2 linked regions of the Homo sapiens genome follow. The protein of the gene in region 2 purifies or fractionates together with the protein of the main gene of each other region. This does not show direct contact. Each region holds a gene or a part of one and is shown on either strand. Other genes may lie near its edges.

Evidence for each region.
Region 1: the proteins of ZNF584 (region 2) and MTCL2 purify together in Homo sapiens (affinity purification with mass spectrometry; one large-scale study listed by BioGRID and IntAct). This does not show direct contact.

Annotation. Positions count from the first base shown.
Region 1 is NC_000020.11:36,853,475-36,857,282, reverse strand, and holds part of MTCL2 (microtubule cross-linking factor 2), read left to right. Parts: intron 1-3,808. UniProt on the Homo sapiens protein: Microtubule-associated factor that enables integration of the centrosomal and Golgi-associated microtubules on the Golgi membrane, supporting directional migration. Preferentially acts on the perinuclear microtubules accumulated around the Golgi.
Region 2 is NC_000019.10:58,407,044-58,411,620, forward strand, and holds the start of ZNF584 (zinc finger protein 584), read left to right. Parts: upstream 1-1,605; 5' UTR 1,606-2,104; coding exon 2,105-2,122; intron 2,123-2,897; coding exon 2,898-3,048; intron 3,049-4,577. UniProt on the Homo sapiens protein: May be involved in transcriptional regulation.

The sequences.
Region 1 (3,808 bases), on a different chromosome or scaffold from region 2:
ACACATTCTCATATACACATCTTACACCCCTAGACACACCCGGATATGTCCCAGAGACAGACTGACATCCTGCAGACACACTCAGACTTATCAGAAGTACACATGTAGGCGGAGACACAAACCCACACAGACGTTATACACACACACTAGCATCCACAGAAGTCTGCACATCTACCCTTGCCAGGCTGGCCCAGGCACAAGCTCACCACCCGGGTACCTCCCCTGCCTCTTCTACAAAGAGAGCAGCAGAGACTTGCACACCTACCCGAGGCTTACAGACACCCACCAAGGGGACTCCCACATGCACATCAGCAGGGACACAGCACAGTCTGGCATGCAAACATTAGGCATGTAGCATTTGCCCACAGGAGCCAGAGGCTCTCAAACCAGGGAACCTAGACACACGCACACACGTGCGCGCACGCACACACACACACACACACGCTGTGACATTTCATCCACACACAGAAACAGGAAATCCTGGTCTGTGTCTCCCTGGAGCTAATGTGTACAAACTACTACTGTTTTCAGTGGCTCACTAGACTTACTTCTACAAGGCTGCTGGGAACACTAAGGAGTGTGGCCAGGGCCTTGACTTTGTAACCTTCTGGAGCTGGGGGTCTTGGGGTCCTGGGTGGTGGGTGGATGGGGGTGGTAGGTCTTGAAGTCAGAAGAAGCTACACCGAAGTCCCCCAGGTCCCTGATGCCCAGCTCCTGGGCCCAGGGCCAGTGGGGCTGAGTGAAGTGGACCGATTGTCGAGCTGCCCACAGAAGAAACACTGCCCGGGGGCAACTCCCTTCTAATCTCCTTGGAATTTCCTGCTGGCCCTATCTCCCCCTTCTCCCCCTGTTCCCTTGCTGGGGGCTGCAGAGGGCCATGCCACTCCCATCTATAAAGGGTGCCCCATTCTGGCTGGGGAATGATGGAGGCAAGGGTAGAGGTGGCTAGAGGAGCTATGGGAGCTCAGAGGAGGGACTTGGCAGACTTCCTGGAGGAGGAGGTGTCCTTGGAGCTGGGGAGTTAGCCTCAAGTGGCTGTCTCTGTGCCCAGCTCTTAGAACAGTGCCTGCCATGTTGTAGGGGCTCAATAAATATGTGTACAATTAAGTGAAAGGCAGTAGGCAGGGCCTGGAGGTGGACCACAGGCTTGAAACGGAAAAGCTGGAGGGAGTGGTGGGAGCTGGCAGGGATGGGGAGAGTCTGGGAAGGGGCGTTGGGCTGGCTTGGGAAGGGCATTGAATGCCAAGCCAAGGGAGCACCTTGCTGGGAGTGGTCTTGTTGCAGCAAAGCTGCAGCCACCTCCTTTTATGTGTCTGCAGCCCTGGGCCTGAGGCCTGCCCTGCCGGAGAGGCCTGGGGAGGGAGGAGAGCCAGGCTGTGTGGTCTAGGGGCCAACTCCACCTCTGGAGTCAAGTCTGGAGCCAAACCTCACTGTGTCACCTCCTCCGTGTGCATGCTGTCCCTGTGCAAACCCCTCACCAAGACTCCGTCTTCCTCCTGTAAAATGGGGATGTGATCCTTTCTAGTGGGGCACTTGGGAGGCTGACAGCTCAGATGTTCTGTGCACCTAGCACCATCCTGGCACAGAGGAGGGGAGGAGGCCCCGTGTCTTGCATAGCCTCCGGGGCAGAGAGAGTCCCCTAGGAAAGGGGCGCAGCTAAGTTCAAGCAAGGGCCTGCCCAGCAGCCAAGGTTTTCACTGAGGTCATTCCCCTAGTCCCCACATGCATGACCTCATCCATGGTCACGTTCACTCCCCTTGGTGCCGGAAGGAACTTGGAGCTGGGGTGCTCCATGCCAGGCTGACCCTGGCATCACTGGAGGCCTCAGTCAGCACTGCATCTACCTGCTTTGCGGTAGTGAGGCACAGCAGGGGTCAGAGCAGGTGGAAGCAGCAGGCCAGCCCTTTGTTCTCCGAGGTCCAGGGTGGTTGGGAGAGAGCACTGTGATCTGGAGCCAAGCTGACTGGGCTGGAATCCCAGCTCTGCCTTTTCCTTTCTGAGCTTTCCCTTTCTGAGCCTCGGTCTCGTCATCTGTAGAATGGGGATGTGGATGTCCTTGCCCCGCACGTTGCCGTGAGGGTTCCGTAAGAGAAAGTGTGCAGGTGTGGGTCCCATTAGCCAGGTCTGGCTCCTGGGAAGGACCCGACAGCACTTGGCGCTTGCCTGTTATATCTGGCTCTGGTGTGACCCCCGTGACCCCAGGTTAAGCTGGGTGCTTGATGACAGGGGCTGTGCTTGGCTCTGGGTGTCCCTCTGTGGGTGTTGGCTTGGGGCATCAGTCTGAGTGTTATGCACAGAGCTGCACTGCATTTTGGGCACCCCCAAACGTATATCCCTGTCTGTGTCCCCCCTTCCCTCCCCCACGGCGTCGTGTCACTCTTCCCTGAATGGCCCAGGCTAGTGCCTCCAGCTTAGTAACTGGTGATACACATTTGCTAATGGAAGGACACCTTTGGCGGCCCCTCATTCTCAAATGGAGGTGAATCATCTCTCACTGCCTGAGCCACAAGGAAAAGCTCAGCCTCTATGAAAAAAATTCTGGGGTTCCCTAGCTAGGCTGGATCAGCTGAACATCTTTACTCTGGTTGGGGCCCAGGCCTGCTTTGGGTCTTCTGGGCTCGAGTCAGTTGCACCAGCCTCTCCCCTCCCCGCCTCTCCTTGACCCTACCCCATGGTGGAGCAGCCTGTGTGGTCCTGCCTCCCACAGCCTCACCCACCCCTGCCCCGCCCAAGCTCTGCGGGTGCTGGACACACCCCGGCCTCTGTCCCGTGCTCTTGCTCTTCCCATCCGGCCTTTGTGCTTGCAGTTCCCGGCTCCTTCCCTTGGTTTCTTCCTCCACCTTTGAGCGCTCAGCCCCAGCAGCAGCTCCCCAGGTCAGGCTCCTGTGTCAGACACCTTGGAGCTCCCTGGAGCTTCCTTTGGGGCATTTACCACGATGTTGATTAGATTATTAATGGGGTAATGATAGGTTTCATGCCATCACTGCCCCACCTTTCCCTGCATGAGGGCAGGGACCTTCCAGGGTAATTAGCTCCTTCCTTTTACAAAGGGAGAAACTAAGGCCCAGAGAGGTTAAGGGGCTTGTTAGAGGTCATGCAGCCTGTAAGTGGCAAGAGGCAAGACTGGGGTCTTGTGCTTCTCTCCAGGATGCCAGGCAGGGGGAATGGCAGGGGTGTGAAGTGCTGGGGTGTCCTGGAGCTTCAGGCTTTGTGGCCTTGGGCCACTCTCTTTGGAGCTTTGCCTTCTATCCCTAAAGACCTCAGACCCCTGCTCTGAGTTTTTGAGATTTCGCTGCAACCCAGAGGGTGTTTGGGGGATGTTTTAAACACATCCAGGTCCAGATGCTGCCTTCCTTCCTGTTCACATGGAAAGGATGGGAGGAAACTGTCAGGCGCTTCCTGACACGAATGCCCCAGAGGCCGTAGGGCCTGTGGATATCTCCCTGCTCTGCCAGGTAAGGCCTTGAATGGGAGAGTGACAACAGTGACAAGCCAGATGTGGCCTTGGTGGGCAGTGGTCTCTTACCAACAACAACCACCACACACACACACACACACACACACACACACACACACACACCCCTCCCTGATAGAGCATCTGTAGTGTCTCTTGTGCAGAACTGTACCAGACGGATCTGGGAGGCTCACTCCTGACTGGCTGCGTAGACCTTATCTTCCTGGGCCTCCGTTTGCTTGTCTGTGAAATGGGGATAAAATAATAATAGTGCCTGCCTCTAAGGATCATCACTGAGCAAGAGATAATGGCTTTTCTGTCTCAGTCCGGTGTCTGGAACGCATTAAACGCTTG
Region 2 (4,577 bases):
AATTGAGCTGAGTGGAGGCACCAAGACCTGCGAGGGCACAGGCTGGGCACCAGGTGTGAGAACAGCCCACTCCTGGGGGCATTCACCAGGGGTAGATCTCTTCAGGGTCCCTCTGCCACAACTAGTTTTGAGTTCATATGGTCCACCTGCTGGTGGGAATGTAGAAGCCTTCAGACCTATGAAGGATGATGAGTTTTTGAGAGTCCAGGCCAGGAGAGGCCAAAACACCATGACCCCAGCAAGCGAGAATAATCCTTACTCCAAGACAAACACAGACCTGCAAAAAATGAACATTCAGGGAAGGCTCCCAGGCAGGACCCAGTGGGCCCACACGCACCCATGTCAGTGCATGCAGTGCCTGGAATCTTACAGGAAGTGACCGAGCTGAACGTGACCAGCTGTGAAGATTCAGAGACTTCTGAGCCCCGATCTTGGCCACTCACGGCCCTTGGGTAGAATGTGTGGGGTGTCCACTCAGCCACTTGTTAGAGGAGGTGGCATGATCTGGGCCTCAGTGCCACGACCAACAGCGACTTCCAAGGGGAACATGGAAAGAACAGAGGAAAAAAACCAGAGTTGAGGCTGGGGAGAGTTATGGTGCCAGTGGTCTCACCCAGCACTGAGTGCAAAGTTCTCCAGCACCACTTCAGGTAGAAGCTCCTCTGGACCTTGCCTAAGAACTCCGTTCGTCCGGGAGGACGCAGGCCCACCTGCTCTAACATGAACGCGTCTGAATTCAGCGGAGGACACCCAGGAGCCCGGTTATTCTCCTGCCAGCGTCCTCCCCTGATGTGTCCCTGACCCCGTGCTCTGACGTACTCAGCCATGTACTCACTCTCCTCTCCCAGGCCCCCATACCTGAGATCACCATGGCCTGATATGGGGTAGACTACAAGCCTACCGTGCCTCAGCCATGTGCAGGGCGACCTGTCCCTGGCATCCACACCTGTGGCCCATACGTCGCCCGCATTGTGGGGCGCCGAAAACCCAACACAACTGAAACACAACTGCTGACCTTCCCCCTAAGCCGCCTCTAAACGAGGTCCCTCGGCCCCTGGTCCCAGCCGCTCTTTGAAGACTTGCCTGATGACAGGCATGTACCATGTTTTTGGCTGGGACATTTTTCTGAGCCTTGCTCCGGGCTCCGTAAAGCGGACACGGTGCCAGGGAGAGAATTTCGGGGCGGTTGCGGGCACAGGCGGGCTTCTGCGGAGGCCCTGGCGAACGCCCCCGCGCGGCGCGGTCCGATGGCCCCATGGGGCCGCCCCTCCACTGTGAGGTCACCGGGGTTCAGCAACATTCACTGCGGCTAGGACGCGTACAGGTCACTGAGGCAGAACTTCCCGATTCTCGCGCCTTCGTTCGTTTCTGCGGACCAGCGGAGACTCCTCCACACCGCCCACCGCCCAATGATCCCACTGCCGCAAACCGCCCCAAAGCCAGCGCCGAAAGCCGACGCCGGAAGCCCCGCCCCACGCAGGGCCCGCCCGAACGTTCCCGTTCCTGGGCCGCCATTGGCCAAGTCTGAACGGCCCCACGTCGAGGCTCCTTATGGGAAATGTAGTTCACGTCCCGCTTCAGGAGCTAGCGGCGCCCTCCCTTATCGCCTTGGCAACGACCCAGCCGCGCCGCGAGGAGAGCCGGGAATGGAGGTCGTGGCGTGAGGGGCGCCGAGCGAGGGGAGGCGCGGGCCACGGGAGTTCCGGGAGTTCCGGCGTTGCCCGGCAGTCCGCAGTCCTCGGCGGGAAGGCTGTCCCGGCGCCTCAGGCAGCTCTGCGTGGGCCGGGGTGACTTCCTCGCGATCCCCTGCGCGAGGTGAAGGGCAGGGACCTTTGCCGCGCCTTCCACGCGCCGTGCCCCACCGGCGAGTGGCTCCATCTTCCTCAGACTTATCGCTCGCGGACAGGCGCCGTGGGTCTCCCGGGCCTCCGTACCGTCCTCCTTCCCAGCGGCTCCGGGAAGCGGTTCCCTGTCTTCGGACGCATTTCACCCGCGCGGGGAGAGCTTCCCGGGAAGGTTCCACGGCGGCCGAGGGTTTCCGCGCCCGGGACGCGTTTCGGCTGAGGCCGTGGGTCCAGTCCACGGGTTCTGCCCGCACGGTCCAATGGCCGGGGAGGCGGAGGTGAGCAGAGGATGCCTCCGAGGAATGAGGGGGCCCACCAGGTGGGGGGCGGCGTGTGCCAGGGCAGAGTTGGAGGAGGGCAGGAGATCTGCGTATGATTCCAGGGGGAGGTCTTTGATGCACGGCTGGGGCATGCCCTTGGCAGTGGGAGCCATTGGAGATGTGCCGCAGGACTGGGACAGGATGGGGTCGTAGTTGCTGTGCCAGGCCCTCTGGAGACGCATGTGCAGAACGGCGTGTGGAAGGCCAGGCAATTGCCTATAGGGTAAACTGGGGACGTTGTGCTGGGGGTGTACAGTTTTAGGCATTCTGTTGTCCAGTTTTGTGCCTGTTGAGCAGGAGGCAAACTGGACCCTGGGACCAGGTACTTGAGACCTAAGGGAGAAGGATGAGCATAGGTTTGGTTGCGTCTGAGAGGTATGATCTCTGGGACTGGAATTGGCAGGCAGGAGATAGAGTGGAGCCTGTGCCCTTGGCCCTGCACATAGATGGCATCAGTCTGGTCACCAACCTGATGTCGCTTTGGGCTGGACACAGTTTCCAGTAGTAACACCAGAAGCATCAATAACACCAGCAGCTCTGATATTCCTCTGGGATAGGAGAAGGAAGGTATAAGGGTATGTGTAGGGAGTAAGGTGGGGAAGAGTTTAGAGCTCATAGGGAAAGATAATGTCAGGGGGAGATGTGATAGGACCCTGAGATACAGGTCAAGGGCCTGAATGTGTCCATCTGTCCATATTTTGGTTGTTTTTTTCTGCCCATCATTGACCCCAAGGCTCAGTTGGACCCATCATTGCAGGGCTTGGTGATGTTTGAGGATGTGACGGTATATTTCTCCAGGGAGGAGTGGGGGCTCCTTAATGTGACCCAGAAGGGCCTATACCGGGATGTGATGCTGGAGAACTTTGCACTCGTTAGCTCACTGGGTAAGTCTCTTACACTGTCCCCCAGCACACTGACTACCCCCTCATTTTCCCCATGCGAAGTTCTGTCCATAACGAAGCCAGACCATGGGGGCTCTTTCCTTCCCAGATTCCCTGTTGTAGGTATTGTGGGTGGTGGGACTCGGTGGTGGGACTCGGCGGTGTGCTCTTTCCCTGCCTTTCTCTGAGCAATGCTGTTGGCAGCCTCAACACCTCTTGCCCCAGGAGCTAGTGGAGCAGGTTTTGGGGGTCAGATGTTTCATAGTTTGCCCACCAAATCCCACCAAGCTCTGCCTTTTCCTGGCCATGTGACTCTCTTGAAGACATGGCTTCTCTGTGCTCTGGGTTTTGCCTCCCTACAAAAGAAATTTTACAGGGACCTCCCTGGGCCAGGCTTGAGCCATGAATTTTAATCAGAACGGTTTGGGAAATATATATATATATATATATATATATATATATATATATATGTGTATATATATATGTATATATATGTATATATATGTATATATATGTATATATATGTGTATATATGTGTATATATGTGTATATATATGTGTATATATGTGTATATATGTATATATGTGTATATATATGTATATATGTATATATATATGTATATATGTGTATATATATATGTATATATATATATGTGTGTATATATATATATATATGTATATATATATATAATTTTTTTTTTTTTTTTTTTTTTTTTTTTTTTGAGACAGAGCCTCACTCTGTTGCCCAGGCTGGAGTGCAGTGGCGCAATCTCGGCTCACCACAACCTCTGCCTCCAGGGTTCAAGCGATTCTCCTGCCTCAGTCTCCCGAGTAGCTGGGACTACAGGCTCGCGCCACCATGCCTGGCTAATTTTTGTATTTTTAGTAGAGACAGGGTTTCACTTTGTTGGCCAGGCTGGTCTTGAACTCCGGACCTCATGATCTGCCTGCCTTGGCCTCTCAAAGTGCTGGGATTACAGGCGTGAGCCACTGCGCCTGGCCACAAAGGTACTTCTTTCGTTAAATTTATTCCTAAGTACTTTATTCTTCACTGTTAAGTATGGTGTTAGCTGTTGGTTTTTTGCAGATGCCCATTTCAGGTGAGGAAGTTCCCTTCTCTTTCTAGTTCATTTAATGTGTTTATTAAGAAAAGTCATGGCCAGGTGCAGTGGCTCATGCCTGTAATTTCAGCATTTTGGGAGGGCGAGGCAGGTGGATTACCTGAGGTCAGGAGTTCAAGACCAGCGTGGTCAACATGGTGAAACCCCATCTCTACTAAAAATAGAAAACTAGCCAGGTGTGGTGGCACATGCCTGTAATCCCAGCTACTAGGGAAGCTGAGGCAGGAGAATCGCTTGAACCTGGGAGGTGGAGGTTGCAGTGAGCTGAGATCGCACCATTGCACTCCAGCCTGGGCAACAAGAGTGAAACTACGTCTCAAAAAAAAAAAAGAAAAGAAAGGTCACTAGATTTTGTCAAATGCTTTTCCAATGTCTAATGAAATGATCATGTGATTTTTGTCCTCTCTTCTGT